Homo sapiens: one gene and its partner. The protein of the gene in region 1 purifies or fractionates together with the protein of each later gene. This does not show direct contact. Each region holds a gene or a part of one and is shown on either strand. Other genes may lie near its edges. The genes, in order: KTI12 and MINDY3.

Region 1 (3,816 bases):
AACCTACAGATTGGTAAACCTGTGAAATAGCAGTTGTTATTTTATAGAAGGGGAAATTGAAGTACAGAAAAGTTACATAATTTGCCAGTAGTTACAACACTAGTAAGTGGAGGAGCCAAGACTTGAATGTTTTTTACTATACTGTACAAGAGAGATACAAAGACCCCAGTATATGTGCATCTACAATATACACACATGCACAGGCACACTCACATTTCTGCACCTACCATCCTATAGTGCTTGCTGTTTATACAAGAGATCCAACAGTTTCATGGCTCTGGGTCTCAAACCTACAATAATAGAGTTGCCAGATTGAGCAAATAAAAATAACGGATGGCCAGGCACAGTGGCTCATGCCTTTAACCCCAGCACTTTGGGAAGCCAAGGCCAGTGGATCACCTGGGGTCAGGAGTTTGAGACCAGCCTGGCCAACATAGTGAAACCCCGTCTCTACTAAAAATACAAAAATTAGCCAGATATGGTGGCGCACACCCATAGTCCCAGCTACTTGGGAGGCTGAGACAGGAGAATCGCTTGAACTCAGGAGGTGGAGGTTGCAGGGAGCTGAGATCATACCACTGTGGTCCAGGCTGGGTGACAGAGCGAGGCTCCATCTCAAAAAATAATAATAATAAAATAAAATAAAGGATGCAGGCCAGGCACCTTGGCTCACACACCTGTATTCCCAGTACTTTGGGAGGCAGAGGTGGCACAATTACTTGAGCCCAGGAGTTTGAGACCAGCCTTAGCAACATACAACCTCATCTCTAAAAAAGAAAAAATAAATAATAATAATAAATTAAAGATGCCCAGTTAAATTTGAAGTTTAGATAAGCACCAAATAATTTTAAATATGTCTATGCAATATTTGGGACACACTTAAGCTTAAAAATGTTTTTGGTGTTTATCTGAAATTCAAATGTAACTGGGCATCCTGTATTTTATCTGGCAACCCTACTAAGGAGAAAAATTCCTATTTGTCTTTCAAGTTCTAAGTCAAATGACTATTTCTACATAAAGTCTTCAGTGATTTCTCTGGGTAGTTTGTTTTTCCCTTCTGTTCTTTTATAACCTCACCTGCATCTATCCATTATAGTATTTATTACTCTGATTGTAGGCGCCTGATCCTTCCCATTCAGACCTTTTATCTTTTGTGGGGAAAGCGTTTTATGTTCATCTCTGAATTCCCAACCTTGGAGATGTTGAATGATTGAAATGGTAATTGAATAAACATTTACTGAGAGCCAGTAGGTTTAAGAGGAGGAATGAAGGAGAACCAGCATTTATTAATTGCCTTCTATATGCTAAATATAGTGCTGATTGCTTACAATATTTAATGCCCCTTAGGCCTTATTAATAAAATGGACGGGCAGTCTTTCGCTGCAGGAAGATCACATTCTCCTGAGGCCTATAACATTTGGCATAAATAACTGATGCCATTATAGTCTCTGTATCTCCTTTCTGAGAAAGCTGAACCTGGGCCTAGCTGGCGTAGAACTCCTGTTTCCATAGAAACAAGAGGGTCTGTAAAAGTCAAGGGAGACAGGAAGAGCAGTTTGCACTTCCGGCTTACGTCGGAGACGCGTACAACCCGGAAGTTGGCGCAGCGCGGTTGCCAATGGTCGCTCCCTGAGAGGATGCCGCTCGTGGTGTTTTGCGGGCTGCCGTACAGCGGCAAGAGCCGGCGTGCTGAAGAGTTGCGCGTGGCGCTGGCTGCCGAGGGCCGCGCGGTGTACGTGGTGGACGACGCAGCTGTCCTGGGCGCAGAGGACCCAGCGGTGTACGGCGATTCTGCCCGTGAGAAGGCATTGCGTGGAGCTCTGCGAGCCTCCGTGGAACGGCGCCTGAGTCGCCACGACGTGGTCATCCTGGACTCGCTTAACTACATCAAAGGTTTCCGTTACGAGCTCTACTGCCTGGCACGGGCGGCGCGCACCCCGCTCTGCCTGGTCTACTGCGTACGGCCCGGCGGCCCGATCGCGGGACCTCAGGTGGCGGGCGCGAACGAGAACCCTGGCCGGAACGTCAGTGTGAGTTGGCGGCCACGCGCTGAGGAGGACGGGAGAGCCCAGGCGGCGGGCAGCAGCGTCCTCAGGGAACTGCATACTGCGGACTCTGTAGTAAATGGAAGTGCCCAGGCCGACGTACCCAAGGAACTGGAGCGAGAAGAATCCGGGGCTGCGGAGTCTCCAGCTCTTGTGACTCCGGATTCAGAGAAATCTGCAAAGCATGGGTCCGGTGCCTTTTACTCTCCCGAACTCCTGGAGGCCCTAACGCTGCGCTTTGAGGCTCCCGATTCTCGGAATCGCTGGGACCGGCCTTTATTCACTTTGGTGGGCCTAGAGGAGCCGTTGCCCCTGGCGGGGATCCGCTCTGCCCTGTTTGAGAACCGGGCCCCACCACCCCATCAGTCTACGCAGTCCCAGCCCCTCGCCTCCGGCAGCTTTCTGCACCAGTTGGACCAGGTCACGAGTCAAGTACTGGCCGGATTGATGGAAGCGCAGAAGAGCGCTGTCCCCGGGGACTTGCTCACGCTTCCTGGTACCACAGAGCACTTGCGGTTTACCCGGCCCTTGACCATGGCAGAACTGAGTCGCCTTCGTCGCCAGTTTATTTCGTACACTAAAATGCATCCCAACAATGAGAACTTGCCGCAACTGGCCAACATGTTTCTTCAGTATTTGAGCCAGAGCCTGCACTGACCAGAGGAGGTAGGGGGGAAGCCATGGCTTCTGATCTCCACTCCACTTTATTTCTCTGGGAAAAATAGGCTGCAGGTCTCCAGAGCATATCGATGCAGTACTGTACTAGAGCTGTTGTGACTGATTCACTCAAACTTTCCTGCATACCCCTGTGCCAGGCCTTGGGTTTACAGCATAAGTTCAGACTAAAGAGAATGGAGAACTATTGTGGTGCAACCTGGCAAATCCCTCAGAGGACAGAGCTAAGGTGGACAGGGATTACCTAGATTGGATCCTACTTGGGCTATCACAGAGCATTGACCATTGGCTTCCCTCATCTGAGGCGTGGGAGAGCAGACTGGATAGATGAGAATTGTTTTAAAACAATTGTGAACAGAAACTGAAGATGGTACAGTTCTACATCTGCACCTGCCCTTTTTTCATACCACAAAAGTATTTTTTGAGTACTGTACTGACTTTTTGCTAGTTTCTATTCTGGGACCGAGTTCACAGATAAATCCATTGGTTTGTATCCTTGAGAAACTTTGTTTTTGTGGAAGTAAGAAAGTTATCTACTAGATTATTTCCTCTAATAAAATCTTTTAAAATAGTCTACTGGAATCTCTTTCACTTAATGTTCCCTGTGTAACTTCATGTAACATTTTAGGTATACTTGTCATTGTTCTGCCTTTAAGTGAAGTAGTATTTTGATAGTTCTGAGAGAGTAGATGTTTTGAGCTACTCTACAGTAATTATATTATGACAATTTCCGTAACTGTTTTGCTTCATTCTGCATTTCAAGGCAAATATCATTGTAAGCTTGTCTTTCATTCTTCATTGATTTCATTGAACAAATGGTAGGTACCTACTTTAACAGTGGCTGTGATTTTCAAAGACCAATTAGATACAGTGTTTTTGCTCTTGAGATATGTGGTGAGAAGCCGGGTGTGGTGGCTCATACTTGTAATCCCAGCACTTTGGGAGTCCAAAATCGAGGTCAGGAGTTCGAGACCAGCCTGGCCAACGTGGCAAAACCTCGTCTCTATTAACAGTACAAAAATTAGTTGGGCGTGATGGTGTGCCTGTAATCCCAGCTACTCTGGAGGCTGAGGCACGAGAATCGCTTGAACCTGGG
Region 2 (3,823 bases), on another chromosome or scaffold:
TGGTTTTAACATATTCTCCAGGTTTTACTGTGTGGGTGTTAGCACACTTAATAGGTTCATTTAGGATATTAAAATTTTGAAAGAGGAATTGTTGATCTTTTGAAAAGGTATTTTAAAGATTTTGTGCTTAAAGCCAGTCTGTATATTGATGTGAGAAAATAGTAAGATCTTTTTATATAACATTTTCCATTAGTATCTTAACAGTATACTGAGTGCATACTATGAAATATGCTATGCAGTTCTGTGGTGATACGTCACGTTGCTATAGGTTAAAGGGCCTTATAATGCATTCCCTTTGGTACTTCAGTAACTAATTTAGATGGGCATATTATATTGAATTACCCTCCAGAAAACATTTTAGTAATTTTTCCAGTTTACTTTGTATCTCATTTTAAAAGTTGCCATGAAGTAAACCATATTTTAAATTTTTTAAATAATGTATACATTTGAAATACTTTGTTAACTGAAAATTTGAGAATTTACCTTAGTGACAAATGAACTGTATTTATATTACAATTTTTATTCCGTGTAACAATCTATTTTACCTGTTCTTTCCTTTATTCCCAGCTTTGTTCTTTTTCTTGTGTTTTATATTTTTTCACCATCCCTGCCTGCTAAGCTTTTTATTTTGCTTGCCTCTTTTCTCTAAATTATTATCTTTATGTCTACTCTTGTAGTATACCCAGTAAAACTATTTAGATAATCTAATGTTGCAGAACAAGCAGTATAATTTGGAAAAGATTAGGTAGAATTTTCATTTTCTGAAAGTTTTAATGTAAAGTGTTTTCCCCTCTTGTTAATATTACTTTCTCTACAAACATTAATTTCATTGGCTTATGTGGTGTGTATAGTTTTGGCTTGTTGGTAATGCACAGTTGTTCGCAGTAGTGAATACTCAGGTTCAATTTCAGTTTGTTTCCCACATAAACCAAGAAATAACTTAATACATTTGGACTGCTAAAGATTTTAAAACGAAATATGAAACACTCACAACTAGGCTTTGGAAAGCTAGCATAATGTGACATTTTAAATTGTAAATAAAAATCTAAAATTTTGACTTCATAATGAATCAATTTTCTTAACTCACCAGTGAGAATTTATATTTGATAGTAGTAAGATTTGCTTTATGAAATATATGTGAAGTTATTCATTGTGATAAATAACTCCCTGGAGCCAAGACTATCTGTGCTCAAGTCTCATCTCTGCTGTTTAATCCTATGTACTCTTGAGAGGATTTTTCTGTGTGCCTCAGGTTCCTCTTCTGTAAAATGGAGCTAAGAGGGTTTATATGAGGATTAAATGAGGTAAGACATGTAGGGCATTTAGAAAAGGGCCTGGCACTTAGTAAAGTGCTCAATAAACATTACCTCTGATTAAAATGCTTTCTTCTATTTCCTTTGATTAATAAACATAATCTAAATAAGTTACTGAAAACTTTTTAACAGTTATACAAATAAATGAGGAAACAAACTTAAAGCTGTCATTGAACCTGTGTAGTTTGAAAGTGTTATGCCTTTTTATACATGTTTGTTTAATAATTAAGCCTTAAACCTAAAGATTTTATATTATAAAAAGGAAGGTTAGCTCTGATGATATTACTTGGATTTATATAATCTGAAAGATTATTTAAAAGTGCAGGACACATTATGATATGTGAGGCACTGATTATCAGTAATTTTTCATACTTTATAACTGCCGTAGCATAGCTGAACTGAAATGTTATTTAATCACCCTTCTATATTCTCAGTATTATATCGATTTTAGTTATATTCATAATAAAGATGTTGAAATATAAATTCATGTTATAATGAAGTTGAAAATAAACTGAGAATTTTAAGGGAGTAAGGAAATAGGGAAAGTTTTGATTGCTTGAAAGTATTTACAGCCTGCTGTGTGTATCTTGTGTCATTTATTTGCCATGTGTAGTGCTGAAAAGTGTCTTTTATGTATAGCTGCCTTGGCTGTCGAAGAGCTTGGCTTTGAGCGATTTCATGCATTAATTCAGTAAGTAACATTGGAACATTTAAAATACTTACTCTGTGGACACATTGCCACTTTAAGTCTGTTCATACTGTGGAAAGGTTCTTAGTTTTACATAGAAATGCGCTACTTAAACATAAATTTTAAATCCATTGCTTCAGGATTAATTTGCCTTTAAATTAAAATAGTTTGTAAATGTATAAACTATGCTGAGTCCTTAATTAACTACCCAGATACGCTTTTCAAAAACATTAAAAAGCTTTTTCATCATTACAATGAAAAAAAATCATTTTAGCTTAATGTTTCTGTGACCTAAACAAATATGAAGATTTCTAGTAGGATAAATATTAGAATTATTTATTTGCCAGTATCTGTTTTCTATACCTTTTATTAAGAATACCGATATTTTTGTTAGAGCATTTAAACTTTTTATTACAAAGTAAAAGGTAAAGATGGCTGTTGATAGAATTATGGGTGGCATTTGGTTTAAAATGTAACATTAATTTCTTTTAAAAGAAGCCGCAAATGTGTAAGTTATCTTTGGCATTAAGATATTTGTTAAGTAATTTCTAGGATTTAAAAAGTGAAGTTTTCTTTGTGTTTACCCCCTCTTACAAGAAGGCCACTCTATTCTTTAAATAACTGTATATTATTGAAGAATTTACTGATGCCAGACAGTTCACCTAAGAGATGAAGAGGTTCCCTGCCAAGTAGGTGTTCTTTCTTAATGATAAATATCATATATAGTGATAGTTGTCAGAAATAGCTTTTGGTTTTAGTGGCTAAATTTGTAATGAAAAATTTAGAAACGTCCCAAAACTTTCCTGTTTGTATGTATATGTTTTAATGTATAAGAAAATTTAAAAATTTTCCCTTTTATGAATGTAGTTAATCTCATCATGATACCAATACTTAATTCTTTTTTTCCCCCAGAAAAAGATCGTTCAGAAGTTTACCAGAATTAAAAGATGCTGTCTTGGACCAGTATTCAATGTGGGGAAATAAATTTGGAGTATTGCTTTTTCTGTATTCTGTATTACTGACAAAGGTGTGTTCAAGAAGATGATTTTTCTGCCTTTGATTAATGTTGTTCAGTGCTGTTTTTCCTGCAGTGATGAGTAATTTTATTCCTGATGGTGTTTTTAAATTCTTAGAATAAAAATCTTTTACGTTGAAAATGAGTTAATTTCTGTTTCCTCAGCACTCACTCGTTGCTTAAGCAGTTTCACCTCTGCTCTTTTGGACTACAGAGATTATCAATAATGTTCTGGTTGTGAAATGCTGTCCTTTCTTCCAAATTGTGTTTCCTTTGATCCTTCCGTGTAGCACTTGACCCCTTAACCCCTTCTGGAAGCTGTTTTTGACCTTGATTCCATTTCTTGATTTTTTTTTTGAAAAATCACTGTGTGAGTTTTCTTTCTATAATGTCTCACGATTCTTATTTTGTTTTGTTTTCTTTGATAGCTTTGTTTCCTTCTTTATCTGTTACCTCCTGCTCTTTTCTCTCCTCCTCTAAATTTTTATAGTCCAGAAATTTTCTTCCCTGGATCCAGTATGCCTTTTATGGATATTTCATTTGCTCAGGTTACCTTTATATAGCTATTTAATAGTTCCAATATGTCCCCTTCTAGTCCTACTCTTTTTCCCCAAATACCAGTCTCATAGCTCTAGTAACGTGTTAGTCTCAGTTGACTATGCTATTAGATCTATCATGTCTGAAATCAAACTTCTTTTATTTGACAAATGTTTTTTGAGCGTTGATTGACTCTATGCTAGGGACTATGTCTGTATTAATAATATGGGATGCATTTTTAATGGTATCTATTTAGCATTGTAAAAAAAT

Evidence for each region.
Region 2: the proteins of KTI12 (region 1) and MINDY3 purify together in Homo sapiens (affinity purification with western blotting, with the first as the bait; one study listed by BioGRID). This does not show direct contact.

Annotation. Positions count from the first base shown.
Region 1 is NC_000001.11:52,031,583-52,035,398, reverse strand, and holds KTI12 (protein KTI12 homolog), read left to right. Parts: upstream 1-1,588; 5' UTR 1,589-1,637; coding exon 1,638-2,702; 3' UTR 2,703-3,296; downstream 3,297-3,816.
Region 2 is NC_000010.11:15,836,409-15,840,231, reverse strand, and holds part of MINDY3 (ubiquitin carboxyl-terminal hydrolase MINDY-3), read left to right. Parts: intron 1-1,952; coding exon 1,953-2,004; intron 2,005-2,598; exon of another isoform or gene 2,599-2,670; coding exon of another isoform or gene 2,671-2,690; intron 2,691-2,913; coding exon 2,914-3,028; intron 3,029-3,823. UniProt on the Homo sapiens protein: Hydrolase that can remove 'Lys-48'-linked conjugated ubiquitin from proteins.